Homo sapiens: one gene and its partner. The protein of the gene in region 2 interacts with the protein of the main gene of each other region in a pairwise test. Each region holds a gene or a part of one and is shown on either strand. Other genes may lie near its edges.

What was found. Proteins that work in one complex are often made in the same cells at the same time.
Region 1: the proteins of LMBRD1 (region 2) and TCP11 interact in binary tests that used the Homo sapiens proteins (3 or more experiments, as listed by UniProt).

Annotation. Positions count from the first base shown.
Region 1 is NC_000006.12:35,131,340-35,138,339, forward strand, and holds part of TCP11 (T-complex protein 11 homolog), read right to left. Parts: intron 6,514-7,000; exon of another isoform or gene 6,428-6,513; coding exon of another isoform or gene 6,352-6,427; intron 4,880-6,351; coding exon 4,768-4,879; intron 1-4,767. UniProt on the Homo sapiens protein: Plays a role in the process of sperm capacitation and acrosome reactions. Probable receptor for the putative fertilization-promoting peptide (FPP) at the sperm membrane that may modulate the activity of the adenylyl cyclase cAMP pathway.
Region 2 is NC_000006.12:69,674,253-69,682,564, forward strand, and holds part of LMBRD1 (lysosomal cobalamin transport escort protein LMBD1), read right to left. Parts: intron 2,290-8,312; coding exon 2,198-2,289; intron 2,020-2,197; coding exon 1,906-2,019; 3' UTR 1-1,905. UniProt on the Homo sapiens protein: Lysosomal membrane chaperone required to export cobalamin (vitamin B12) from the lysosome to the cytosol, allowing its conversion to cofactors. Targets ABCD4 transporter from the endoplasmic reticulum to the lysosome.

The DNA.
Region 1 (7,000 bases), about 35 Mb from region 2:
GGCGGATCACCTGAGGCCAGGAGTTCGAGACCGGCCTGGCCAATATGGCAAAACCCTGTCTCTGCTAAAAATACAAATATTAGCAGGGTGTGGTGGCACACACCTATAATCCCAGCTACTTGGGAGGCTGAGGCAGGAGAATCACTTGAAACTGAGAGGCGGAGGTTGCAGTGAGCCGAGATTGTGCCACCGCACTCCAGCCTGGGTGACACAGCAAAACTCCATCTCAAAAACAAACAAACAAACAAAAAAACACAATGAAAAAGAAAAGAAAAATAAGCCATCAAGCCACAAAAAAACATAAAGGAAACTTAAATGAAATTACTAAGTGAAACAACTAATCGGAACAGGGTCCATACTGTATGATTCCAACAATATGACTTCCTGGAAAAGTCCTCCTGAGCAGCGGGGTTTACAGCTGCCTCATTTTTAAAAAATGTTTAGTACAGACAGAGTTTTGCCATGTTGGCCAGGCTGGTCTCCAACTCCTAGTTGCAAGTGATCCACTCGCCTCGGCCTCCCAAAATGCTGGGATTACAGGGATGAACCACCGTGCCTGGCCCCCTCCTACCATCATCTCTTACAATTAACTAGTCTCCCTGCCTCTAGTCTTGTTCCTTTATAATCTGTTTTCCACACTGCCACCAATTCACTCTAAAAACAATGCTGTTTCTCAGATGCCATATTCAACATGATGTAATGCTTATTTAAAGTCCTTCGGGGGCTCCCCCATCACCAGCAAGATAAATGGCTTATGTTACCTTATATCATACTGCTCTGGCCTCTCTTTCCAATGTATTTTCTTCTACCTTGTAACACCTTGGGCTCAGCCATTGCAAGTCGCTTGTAAAGAACATACCATGTTCTACCACCATTCTCTGCCTCTGACATGTTGTCACCACTACCTGGTGCAACCTTTCACACCAAGACCACCTGGAAAGCACTTATTCAACATCCAAGACTCAAGTCTTCATAGGCCTAACCTTCCTCTGTAGGCAAATCTTCCCTGATCTTCCACAGGTAGCTGAACACTCTCATTAAACTCTATATATGCATAGCTACAAGTGAACTTATCAGTCTAATCAGTCATTTTCTATTATTCAACTGTCTCCCCTACAAAAGTTTCTTGACAGCAAAAACTGCCTTATCTATATCTCTATCCTTAGCACCCAGCATTTTGCCTGTGACATAATAAGGACTCAATAAATGCCTGGTAAATGAATATCTGAGAATGAAATTTCCCTTAGGAGCCTACAACTGTAATTAACATCATCCTATGAACCTAAGGTAAAGCCAACTGCCAATAATGAGTAACCTCAAACAATTTCAGCCTTTTTCCCGACATAATTTTTTATATCACCATACCTGGAAACCCAGTTCTGAATACTACTATTTCTCCGGCTTCATTTCTCCCTCTCTCGTTTCTTCTACCTGCCATACCCCTCTATCCCTCCATACGCCTGCAACTCCCTCACCACCACCCTATCACAGACCTCATTCTCCCAGTTTCAGTTTTCTCTCCTCCCCTGTGAGCAACAAACATCTCTAAACAGTGAGAGAGAAGCTGAGAGACCTGAGTTTGGTGAAAACCTGTTCCCAGCATGGAAACTTGCTAACATCAGTCAAGAACAAATCAAAGAAGCATGAAGACCAGAGGAGCAACATGTGATGGAGAAAGGCCCTTTAGTAACAGATACCCCACAATGGCCCTCTGACAAAAGCATTTAAGGACGCAAATGAATCACGAGTTGTTATTATTTGTCTTTTGGTGGAAAATTAGAACAATTTTATTTTTCAATTGTTTTTTCTTTTCTCAGCCTCATCTGTGATACAATATTTACAATCTTTTTTTTTAGAGACAGAGTCTTGCTCTGTTGCCTGGGCTGGAGTGCAGTAGCACTATCACAGCTTACTGCAGCCTTGACCTCCCAGGCTCAAGTAATCCTTCCACCCCAGTCTCCTGCATAGCTAGGACTACAGGCGTGCACCACCACATTTTGCTAATTAAAAAAAAATTTTTTTTTGTAGAGACGAGGTCTCACTATGTTGCCCAGGTTAGTCTTGAACTCTTGACCTCAAGCGATCCTCCCACCTCAGCCTCCCAAAGTGCCGGGATTACAGGCATGAGCCACTGTGCCTGACCAAGAACTGTTTTAAAATATAAAATCTGGGCCAGGTGTGGTGGCTCACGCCTGTAATCCTGGCACTTTGGGAGGCCAAGGCGGGTGGATCACGAGGTCAAGAGATCGAGACCACCCTGGCCAACATGGTGAAACCCCACCTCTGCTAAAAATACAAAAATTAACTGGGCATGGTGGCGCACACCTGTAGTCCCAGCTACTCAGGAGGCTGAGGCAAGAGAATCGCTTGAACCCGGGAGGCTGAGGTTGCAGCAAGCTGAGATCGCGCCACTGCACACCCCAGCTTGGCGACAAAGCGAGATTTCATCTCAGAAAAAAAAAAAAATCTGACACTGAAATTTACCCACTTAATTGTCAATAAACCAGCAGAGCCAATTCAATTCATACTTACTGAATGGTTCTTCTTTACCACAATGTCAATATAACTAAGAATAATACAAATAAAGCCTGGTGTGGGTATGGAAGCATTCTTTATCAACAGTGTTCAGATTTTGATAAATAAGCTGAGTTATGAAGCTGGGGGAAAAAAAATCCCAAGAGTCAAAACACCACTAACAGAAAATCTTTATCTGTGCCTGTTTAGTATGAAGCCACTTAAAAGGGTAGCTGATAGGAGCTATATGGTAGGCAGCTGACAAGATAACCCCAAAGATCTCTGCTTCCTGATACAGTCATCCCTTGGTATCCAAGAGGGATTGGTTCCAGGATCCCCCTCGGAAATTCATGGATGCTCAAGTCCCTGATACAAAATGGCATAGTATCGCATATAACCTATGCACATCCACCCATAAGCTTTTTTTTTTTTTTTTTTTTTGGTTTTGTTTTGAGATGGAGTCTCAAAACAGGCTGGAGTGCAGTGGCGTGATCTTGGCTCACTGCAACCTCTGCCTCCTGGGTTCAAGCAATTCTCCTGCCTCAGCCTCCTGAGTAGCTGAGACTACAGGCTCGCACCACCATGCCTGGCTAATTTTTGTATTCTCAGTAGAGACAGGGTTTCACCATGTTGGCCAGGATGGTCTTGATCTCTTGACCTCGTGATCCACCCGCCTTTGCCTCCCAAAGTGCTAGGATTACAGGCGTGAGCCACTGCGCCTGGCCCCATAAACTTTAAATCATCCCTAGATTACTTAAATATCTAATTCAATGTAAACGCTATGTAAGTAGTTGTTATACCATATTGGTTTTTAATTTTGTATTATTTTGTATTTTTTATTATTGTGTTATTTTTTATTTTTCTAATATTTTCTATATGCACTTGGTTGAATTCACGGGATGCAGAGCCCACAGATATAAGGGCCAACTGTATTCACATCTTTGTGGAAACCTCTTCCCTTGAGGGTGGGCAGGATGTAATGACTCATTTATAGCAAACAGAATGTAGCAGAAGCGGGCCGGGTACGGTGGCTCACGCCTGTAATGCCAGCACTTTGGGAGGACAAGGCGGATCACCTGAGGTTGGGTGTTCGAGACCAGACTGACCAACATGGAGAAACCCCATCTCCACTAAAAATACAAAATTAGCTAGGCGTGGTGGTGCATGCCTGTAATCCCAGCTACTTGGGAGGCTGAGGCAGGATAATTGCTTGAACCTGGGAGGCAGAGGTTGCAGTGAGCCGAGATCGCGCCATTGCACTCCAGCCTGGGCAACAAGAGCAAAACTCCATCTCAAAAAAAAAAAAAAAAGAATGTAGCAGAAACAATGGGATGTCACTTCTGAGATCAGGTAACAAAAAGACTGGCTTCTGTCATGGGCACCATCTCTCACACACACTCTTGTTCTCTCCCTTGGAGGAAAGCCAGCTGCCATGTTTAGTATACATATATACACCATGTTTAGTATATAATATATAGTACATTATATATAGCTGCCCTATAGTAAATTCCATGTGGCAAATTGAGGGAGCCTCTGGCCAAGAGTCAGCAGACTGACTACAACTCATGAAAGACTATAAGCCCGAGGTATACAGTTAAACCATGCCCATATCTCTCATCCACAGAAACTGTGACATAATGAATATTATTTTGCTGGGCACAGTGGCTCATGCCTGTAATCCCAGCACTTTGGGAAGCTGAGGTGGGAGGACTGCTTGAGCCTAGGAGTTCAAGACAACCCTGGGCAACACAGTGAGACCCCATCTCTAAAAAAAAAAAAAAAAAAATCGAAAAATGAGGTAGGAGGATCACTTGAGCCCAGGAGGCCATGACCATACTACTGCATACCTGCCTAGGTAACAGAGTGAGACCCTGCCTCCAAAAAAATAAAAACAACCAAAACGGAAAAATGAAATGTTATTTTAAGCTGCTAAATTTTGGGGTAATTTGTTATGCAGCAGCAGATAGTACTACAGGCTGCTTCCTCCAAGTTTGTCAGAGATCTGAAATCCACCATATTTATTCCAACAAGTGTTGCTTTGGTTTATTTGTTGACTAAGTAACATTTGCTTCTTGGCCTTCTTTGGTACTAATAATTACAACTTAGTACTCTTCTGTTTAAGTTGTTGAGACCTCTCAAGTTTAAATACTCATTGTATCATTAAATAAAAATGCTTCAAGTCTGATCTGAAGCCATCAGTGCTAAGTACCTAAGCCAGGATGAGCAACATGAAGAAAGAAGAAGAGTCTATACCTGCTTGGAGGTAAAACCTTCTCTTCCATGTAGTAATCACAATTCATCCCAATCTTGTTGCTCAGCTTGGAAACTTCATTAACGGTTTCTGTCAGACCTGTGACAGAAAGAACTGATGGTGGACAACAATGAGCCCATGCAAGTCTGAATTTCTATTTTATTCAGAGATTCACTCAATCTAGTAGGCCCCAAATTTAGATTAATCAAACTGGTCTTACACAGACTCACCCAACTATTCTAGTGATTTATGTTTTCTGCACTCTATGCCCCACGACAGTGCTAGAAACTTTCAGAATAGTAGTCTAACACTGGGGGAAGGCAGGACAAATAGCTAGTTTATAAAAAAAAGCAGGAAGTGAAACAGATGAAAAACTTTTCTCTTAAAAAGTAAAATCGTATTTATAGCAGCAAAGAAACAATAATTTGAAATTTGCAAAAATAAACATTCATCTAAGTATTAAGGTTCCACGTTCCTTTTCCTGTCTCTGATGCTATACATGATGAAAGCTAAACTCTCCCTACAGATAATACTCAGATGTTACTGAATAGTGCCAAAGTCATTTGGTCTTCTAAAGCGGTAGTTCTCAGATTTTAGGAATTCACAGACTAATAAAATTTCTGAAAATATTTTAAGCAACTGAAAACAACTTGCCAACTTTTTGTTTTGCCTAGTATGGACAGTGAAACAAGCAAATAAAAATCATCTACCACCACCAAAATCATCATTTCATCAAAGAAAAGATAGCTTAACCTCTGAAAAAAACCAGAAAGGAAATATTGTCAAAATAAACAGCAGTCCCTTAAATGGAATTAACTTTAGGAAAACTCATTACAATATCTTTATGATTTCATTTCACTAAATAGTGCTAAGAATTTTGTCACAGACCAGCATGGGTATTTGGCAACCACTGTTCTAAGTTTTTAACAAATAGCTAGTTTATAAAAAAAAGCAGGAAGTGAAACAGATGAAAAACTTTTCTCTTAAAAAGTAAAATCGTATTTATAGCAGCAAAGAAACAATAATTTGAAATTTGCAAAAATAAACATTTATCTAAGTATTAAGGTTCCACGTTCCTTTTCCTGTCTCTGATGCTATACATGATGAAAGCTAAACTCTCCCTACAGATAATACTCAGATGTTACTGAATAGTGCCAAAGTCATTTGGTCTTCTAAAGCGGTAGTTCTCAGATTTTAGGAATTCACAGACTAATAAAATTTCTGAAAATATTTTAAGCAACTGAAAACAACTTGCCAACTTTTTGTTTTGCCTAGTATGGACAGTGAAACAAGCAAATAAAAATCATCTACCACCACCAAAATCATCATTTCATCAAAGAAAAGATAGCTTAACCTCTGAAAAAAACCAGAAAGGAAATATTGTCAAAATAAACAGCAGTCCCTTAAATGGAATTAACTTTAGGAAAACTCATTACAATATCTTTATGATTTCATTTCACTAAATAGTGCTAAGAATTTTGTCACAGACCAGCATGGGTATTTGGCAACCACTGTTCTAAGTTTTTAGTGCAGACCTATAGTACAGCTGATAGCATTCACACATAATAGGTATATATGGTAGTTACAATGATTACGTGGTGTATAAAATGCAGCCGTATACAATAAATCATATTTTATCACTCTCTTTTGATGCAGCATCATGATTTTTCACAGAAAATTATTTGGCTCCAAGATGTGGAGGAGATGTAGATGAACAAAGATTGGCCACGAGTTGATCATTGTTGAAGCTGGATGATGGATAAATGGGGGCTCATTGTATTAGTCATTCTATTTCATAAATGTATAATTTTTCTATAGTAAAAAGATTTGAAAATGTAAAAAGGAAAAATAAGGTTACTGTAGAAAAGTTACACAGGAGAATGCCCCTGTTCTTAGATACATGATGAAATATTTAGAGGTAAAGTCATGACTTTGTATCTCACCCCAGTTAAAATGGCTTTTATCCAAAACTCAGGCAATAACAAACGCTGGTGAGGATGTGGAGGAAAGGGAACCCTCATACACTGTTGGTGGGAATGTAAATTAGTACAGCCACTATGGAGAATAGTTTGGAGGTTCCTCAAAAACCTAAAAATAGAGCTACCACATGATCCAGCAATCCCACTGCTGGGTATATACCCAAAAGAAAGGAAATCAATCTATCGAAGAGATATCTGCACTCCCATGTTTATTTCAGCACTATTTATGATAGCCAAGATTTGGAAGCAACCTGTG
Region 2 (8,312 bases):
TTACTTTTAAAAGGCCCTATCTCCACATAAAGTATTATTCTATGAAGTACCAGGGGACAAGATTTCAACATATGAATTGTAAGGGGACACAATTCAGCCTATAACATAGAAAGTGGAGAAGAAGGGACAAATGGAAAGATAGGAAGTAGAAATTAACATGACATGATTGTTTGATGAGTCAGTTATACAGAAGAGATATGGAGATCTACCTGATTCTTTGTTTAGGCAATCAAGTGTCTGCGGTGCCATTTGTCAAAAAAATGAATGCAGAAGAAGGCTTAGTTTGCCCCCACAAAAGTGAATACTTCAATTTTCAAAATGTTACAGTTGAAGCAGTAATTTCTAGCTAAAAGATAACTCAAAGTTCAGAGCTTAAGAACAAGTAGTATAGATAGAAGCCAAGGGTATGTGAGATTGTCCACAAAGAAAATGTAATATAAGGCCGAGCGTGGTGGCTTATGCCTGTAATCCCAGCACTTTGGGAGGCCACTGTGGGTGGATCATGAGGTCAGGAGTTCAAGACCAGCCTGGCCAAGATGGTGAAACCCCATCTCTGCTAAAAATACAAAAACTAGCCAGGCATGGTGGCACATGCCTGTAATCCCAGCTACTCAGGAGGCTGAGGCAGGAGAATTGCTTGAATGCATGAAGGGGAGGTTGCAGTGAGCTGAGATCGTGCCATTGCACTCCAGCCTGGGCGACAAGAGTGAAACTCCATCTTAAAAAAAAAGAAAAAAGAAAATGTAAAATAAGAACAGAAGGGAATGAAATCCTGGTGAATAATGCTAAAGGGTAGTTGCAGAAGCAGAAGCCAAATACGAAAGCTGTGAAGGTTTATCAAGAGAGATGAAGAATCAGAACAGAGAAAAATGGCACAAAAATTAAGGGAGAGAATAATTAACTTAGATATAGTTGTTAATTCCTAAACTTTTTTTCAGAAACTTAATGATATTTTACCTCAAGGATCATGATATATACTTTTTTATGAGTTCTAATGTGCTTATGTTAGTAAACTAGAATATAATTTTTTATTATTTCTCACTATCCAGAATGTGTTCAAAATACCCTACTGATGTCATACAGCTTTCATTACATCTTTTGCAAATTTCAAATCTTTAGAATGAAAAATTATCTCTAAAACCAAAATATGATGCCATATATCTTAAATTAATCCATAAACTGATTTTTTTTTCCAGGATTAATTATTCTTGACAATACCCCTATTTATATTGAAATACACATTTTGAGGTCAGATGCAAAACAAAAGCTACCTATAACAATATGTATGCCTTAAATACTGTAGAGGTTGTAAGTTATCTAATGGACTGATATTTGAACAATATAACACATCTTGGAACGCCATGCTCTTAGAGCACTAACTAGAGTTTGAAATCTTTTCATGAAATCTACTTGAGTGGTGCTAAAGATTTTATGCAGAAAACTGAAAACAATTTGCATATGGGAGTAACATTCATCAGCTATATTGTAAATATTATTTGGAGGCAATCAGAGAGAGACACTTTAAAATTCCACATCACTCTGGAGAACCTAAGGCACAGATACAGATGATTTATTATGTTTTCAAAAAGTGACAAAAGGGAATATTAATTCTGGAAGATTTTTAATCAATTTAACACTATTATACATTAGAGGAAAAAATTTTGCACAAACATTCCCTCACAAAGCCAGTAGTCTTATATTTACATAGCATGATTATGGTAATTTAAAATGTTAATCTATGATACAATGTTACTTCAGAAAACATATAATAAAATATAGTTGTCTTATAGCCATGCTCCCATTTTTGATGAAAGCTAGTTAGCAAATCCTAATGTTAGTTTAATACTTTAAAAATGCATAACAGATATTCAGTCAGCATTATAAAACCTTTAAGACAGAAGGCTGTCAAGCAGAATAGACAGAGGGCTCATCATCACTTATGTCTGAATCTTCATCTACTCCTTCAATAACCGATTTCTTCCCTTTACAACAGGATACAATTAATCCAATCAAAAATACCTGTAAATTTAAATAAGCCATGTGTTATTTTTCAAATTTAAAATCATCTGGAAAGTAATGCTTTAAAATTCAATGACAGTACTATGATACAAATGGCCTAGTAAGATAAAAAGAGTTTACACATTTAACTATAATTTATAAAGGAAGGTCAAATCACGCGTGGGATATCTGCACTTACCCCAAGAAAGGCCCAGTTACCAAAATAGTAAGCAGCACTGAAGAACCAGAACTTGTGAAGGAATAGGTATGTCCGGGTAACAGTACACTGATCTGTGAAAGCAAATAAAAGACTATGGTGAGATAGGTTCTTTCATAAAATTGATGATTAATACTTTCTCTAAAAGATTATTAACCAAAGCTAATGACTAAGATCATATGGCTAGTAAGTGTCAGAGATGGTACTGAAACTTAGGTCTCTCTCCAAAGCCCACTCTTTCAATCACCTTAATGTAGTGTTAAAAACTGCCAATTAATATGACATATTAAAAAAAAAATGAATGCCACCAATGCAATCCAGATCTTAAGTATAAAAAAATCATCTTGACTAGTTTGCTTTACTGGAAATAGAAGAATCATTTTTACTTGGAGTGTCAGACATATCATAAAACAAAAAAAAAGTTTTCCTGATGAACATCAAGAAGAAAGAACAAAGTAATCAGATGTGGTCAGTATTAAGTTGCACTTGTAGGGGCAGAAAGGTCTAATACCTTTCCTCACCCATTGTAAGTTTCACGGTCAACACTCCTATAACAGAAGACAGGTTAACAAGAGAAAAGCATAACAAATTTATTTAGTCAGTTTTACATGACACAGGAGGCTTCAGAAATGAAGACTCAAGGGAAAACTGTGTATTTTCAAGCTTCGTCAATGAAGAATGGAGAGCTAAGAGCTAAGAATAGAGAGTAATTGGACAAAAGTGTATAACCAAATGGTAACAGACTGAGCGGGGAAAGCCAGCAAGGTCTGTATGTTCAGATTCTTCCTGGTCTTTCTACACAGCATCCCCTCCTTCAAGGTATAGGGCAGAACTCCTTTTGGAATGAGGGTCTTATGACCTACTATTAGACAAGGTAGGTCATAGAATTTCTTTATGGCCAGCTCCTACATAGAAAGGCAGGGGAAGGTTAGAATAATATTTCTAGGTTTATGGCTGGCTTTGGAAAAGTGGGGTTCTAATTTCTATGACATGGTTGGGGGAAGAGAAGTTCCAGTTTCTATGGTCTGCCTTGGGAGAGAAAGGGGAACAGAAGAAAGAAGGGCAAGGGAAGGTTGAAAGGATACTTTGCTTCTGGGGGTCTTCCAATATCCTTCAGTTCAAAGTACTTAGCATGTTACAGTGTGTGCTATCATTTTCTTATCCCCAACACACTTTTCTAAGAAACCAATTCTCACGGCAGCTCAAGCTTGAGAGGTTTCTTTCAGCTTTTATCTTTTTATGACTGCTATTGAATGGATGACTACTACTTCTAAAGAAATAGGAAAATCATTATTTACTGATGTGATTCCTGTTTGAACTTTAGACGGCATTATAGATGTAATTAAAAATAAATCATATATTTTTCTCCTTCAAATAAAATGTAACTCTCAAAGAGAAAGTAGCAGACTGGTTATTTGATATTTGTGTAAACCCCATATTAGTTTTGTACAAATACATTATTTCCATTAGTTGCAAAGTCATCTACACATATTCAAGCCATTCAGAGAGGCCTGTGGCAACACAGTACAGTTGACCCTCAAGCAAAACAGGTTAGAGTTGCCAACCACCACACACAATCAAAAATCCACATATAACTTTTGACTTCTCCAAAACGTAACTACTAAATAGCCTGGTGTTTTCTGGAGGCCTTACTGATAACACGAACTATAGATTGACACATATTTTGTATGTTATGTATATTACATACTATGATCTTACAATAAAGTAAGCTAAAGAAAAGAAAATGTTATTAAGAAAATCATAAAAAGTGAAAATATATTTACTATTAAGTGGAAGTAGATTATCATAAAGGTCTTTATCCTCATTGTCTTTACATTGAATTGGCTGATGGGAAGGGGAAGGATGGGGAAGAGGAGGGGTTGGTCTTGCTGTCTCAAGTGGCAGAGGTGGAAGAGGTGAAGGAAGTAGAATAGGAGGCAGGAGAGGCAACTGAAACTTTTATTGAAAAAAAATCTGGCATAAGTGAACCCATGCAGTTCAAACTTGTGTTGTTCAAGGGTCAACTACATTATGTAATTGAGTGTAAAATTATATATGCTGCATCTAATAGAGGATACTAACCTCACAAATTTCAGAAGGCCTACTTCTTTTCAGTCTGTTAATTACAAAATAAATTATAATTTCTACATATTTTTATTCAAAATGGACAATGGCAAAAAGATCCTACATGCAATTAGAAGACCAATCTCATATCCTATTGTTAATCAAGAAAATACACCTTTAGTTCTATTTTTCTGAGCTCTCTTCTCAGCTTCAATAAGTAAGTGTTCTTTTCTCTCAAAACATAAAATTGAGCTGAGGGCTACATAGTCCAGCTTATTACATAAGGGATCTAATAACACTTTTTTTGTTCCTGTCACATGGTTTTCCAAAAATAGCATTAAAGTTATATTTTATCAACATATAAGACTTGTTACATAAAGCTTCAGATATGTGATGTAAAGATTTAGATAATCTAAATTTTATCTACTCTAAACCCTTCCACTGTACTTCAACATTTACTTCTGAATTGCTCAATACCAAACTGAACAAACCTGTCTCTTTCTGGTTAAAACAAAAAAAAAAAAACAAAAACAAACAAACAAAAAAAATCACACAGTTTAATAAAGAAGCAACTTCTTCCTTTTAGGAGCAAGGACTACCAATCTAATTCCTATCTATTGAGCCCCCAAAAGCTCCCTTCAGAGTCTTTCTTCTCTTTATCAACAGAAAAGTCTAGAATGAATATTCACAGTTTTCTAAGAAAACCAGAAAGCCTTTAAGCAGCATTAGCTGGACATATTTCTGTCTCCTATAGTTACCATAGATGAGTACAGCTTTACACTAGGTGCTGGGAGTTCAGACTCACAGCAGAGACTCCTGGATAGAAAATTTGTCATTTACTTCGTGCTCCCACCACATTTTATTCTCACTTTTATTACAGAACTTACTTCACAGTGATATAGCTATTCAATTTGTCATTTTTTTTCCAGTAGATATACTGAGTATCCTAAAATACCATTGGAGTACTCAAATCCATTCATATTCAATGACTGTTGACGTTAAAAGGGGATATTTTAAATTTATATTAATTAAATAGCCCATTTTCTAATTTTTAAAAATTGAAATCTGACAAGATTCCAAGGGTATAAAAATGAGAAAATTGAATATATCTTGAAATTAAAGCATAACTAAAATGTCCAGCATGGTGAACGAAGAGCCCAGGCTCCGGACTCTGACAGACTTGGAGGTGAATAGCATTTGGTCACTTTTTTGCCATGTGTACAGGCAAATCTGAACTGTGGAGCCTGTGGACTTATAAAAAGGGGATATCACCATCTTTCCTCACAGAATTGCTATAAAGATCATATGACATATACATCAAAAGCCCCAGGCAAAGTGGCGCTTAATATTAATTTTCTTCCTTTTTCCTCTGCAAGGTATAGAGAACAATTGTGAAGAGCTACTCAAATGGTTGCAAGTCTTAAGATTTCAGACACGCATGTCCAACAGTAGGAAAATAATTGGTTAGTCATTAATATCATGACTACTCTGTGCATGCCCATTATTTTTCTGTCTCTACAGTTGAAACAGACACAAATGGATTTGGCAAAATTCAAATTTGTATAATCAGTATCAGCATACACTGCTAAATATACCTTTAAATAACCAATTTGAATGTTTCAAAAATGAAGAGCAGGGTAGGCTTGGACCTACCCAAAAAATGCCTGTTCATAATTATTTTAAAAACAAGAATGGTATCATTCATGGTTTAAGTATTACTTTAGCTTCATTTTACAAGTATAAGCCTGTGAAAAACTCAACTTTCTCAATACTGCTAATGCTGTAAACTTAAAAAATAAAAGTTATTTCACTCATTTCCATACTTATGATATTTTGGGAGTCAGAACTTGACAAAATTAGAAATTTCAGGGCCAGAACAGGGCTAACAAAACAGAGGCTGAGCTGGCAGAAGCAAGATAAATCAAATCATTCTTCTCCAGACATCTAATAATCCACTTAGTGACATTTTAAATTGGCTTATACTCTCTGACTCTTGCCCACCACCAAAACCATATCTTAAATATTTTTTTGATCACATTATTTTACATGTTTACCTTTTTAAAAGGTTGTGGACTTTGACAGAAGCCTTTTAAAATACCATAAAAATGTATCATCATTCTGCGTTGTTGTTGAAAAATGATAGAAGGCTAAAAATCCACACACACAATAAGTAACAGCTCTTTATATGCATCTTTATACATATATATCATTTTATTTCTATTAACTGGGATATACCCATATAAAAATTTTTGCTAATAAGATGCATGCATATATTTCCTATTCAAGTGACAATTCCACCCTGAATAAATGGAGGGGAGTGCCGTTCTTCACCATCTGCCATCTTCCAGCTGCTCACCTGAATCACAGATATCTAGGAGATATATAGATTTCTTTCTATAATTATCCAACTAAGAAAATCACAATAAAGGTTCTGAATTTGGTTTTACCTTCAAAGTAAATTTAAACTGTTGGATATTTCATTTAGGAATTGTGTTCTAAAATCAGAAGTATTCCAGAAACTTCTGACTGTTGTTCCTCAAAAGAAAATATAATTGAATTAAAGATTAAACTTCCAATTAAACTAAAGATTAGATGTTAACAATGAACACTAAACATGGGGGAGGGGGGCTCAGATAATTTTTTTTTCTGATGAGAAAGTGGCCATACAAAAAAGAATTCAAAGGGCCAAAAAGGGGCATCTGAAGCATATGAATAAAATCAAGACTTTTGAATCCTGCTACTACCACCATTCCTTCATCTCTTCTCACATATCATCAAACAGAGAAATAACAGGAAATGCAAGTACACCATTTTTTTTGTAATTTAACAGCAGTCTTTAAGGATTTATCTGATAAATTTTATATTATATATTTCCTGTTTCCTTTGTTATGTCACTTTTAATGTATCTTGACTGCCACTAAGATAACTTTGGTTAAGTAGAATAAATAATACCTTTTATTTTAAATACATATTTTAAAAACATTTAATGTTTAAGCCACAACTGAGTCATCATGTTAAACCTTCACTTGAAATCAATTTATAATTAATTACTCTATATTTGCATTTTATAAAACAAAGCCTTATTTTACGTGTATATATATAGAAGACATTTGAGAACACTCATGTAACATGGAGAATAATTTTAAAACAAGCAATTTATTTGACTAGTGACCAAAAAAACTTAGAAGCCTAGACTATTTAGAAGCCACTTCATAGCTCTTGGCTGCCCATGACTGTGCCAATTGGTTCCTGATTAGGGTCTTGCTACTATTGAATATTTATAATGAACATATATATCTTAACTGTATACAGGCTAAGGAGCTTGGATTTTATTGTGATATGATTTGAAATTATTTATAAAATGGTTTTAAGAAAGAATAACAAGAGTGGAGTACAGACTAGAAGAGGAGATTGAAAGTAGAAAGAGGTTTACCAAGTTAGAAGACTATACAACTGGAAAAAATGAGCTCAGGGATGGGAAGAAAAAAGTTGGGATCTGTGAGATTTTTAGGATTTAAAATCCTAATGTTTTATCGTCAGATGGAATACATACACGTAAAAAGATTTCGGAAACTAATGAAATACATCCAAATAAATGGGAAGGCAGAAAAAATGAAGATATATAATAAAAACCAAAGTTGTATATTTATATTAAAATTTAACAAGTGGCATACAGTTAAATCAATGTTTTGTTAAATCTCACTGGGAGATTTAGGTAAAGGGGAAGAGAACTGATGAATGTCAAAACTCACAGAAATTTTGAAGGACACAGTTTTCTTATACTTTAAGAATACACAAACTGTATCAGGTTAATAAAGATATTTGCCAGATATTTTGCACTTAAGAATAAGTTTCAGAGTAACCATTTTTAAGAACAAGTATAATCTGTGTTGAGCTCTGGTTATATTTAAATAAGTTTAAAGCATTTCCAAGGTGCTAAAATATATATTTGCCTTTTAAGAAAGAATGCTACTAATTTCATTTTATTACTAATTGGCCATATAACACTCATTAAAAGGGAGTACAAGGTAAG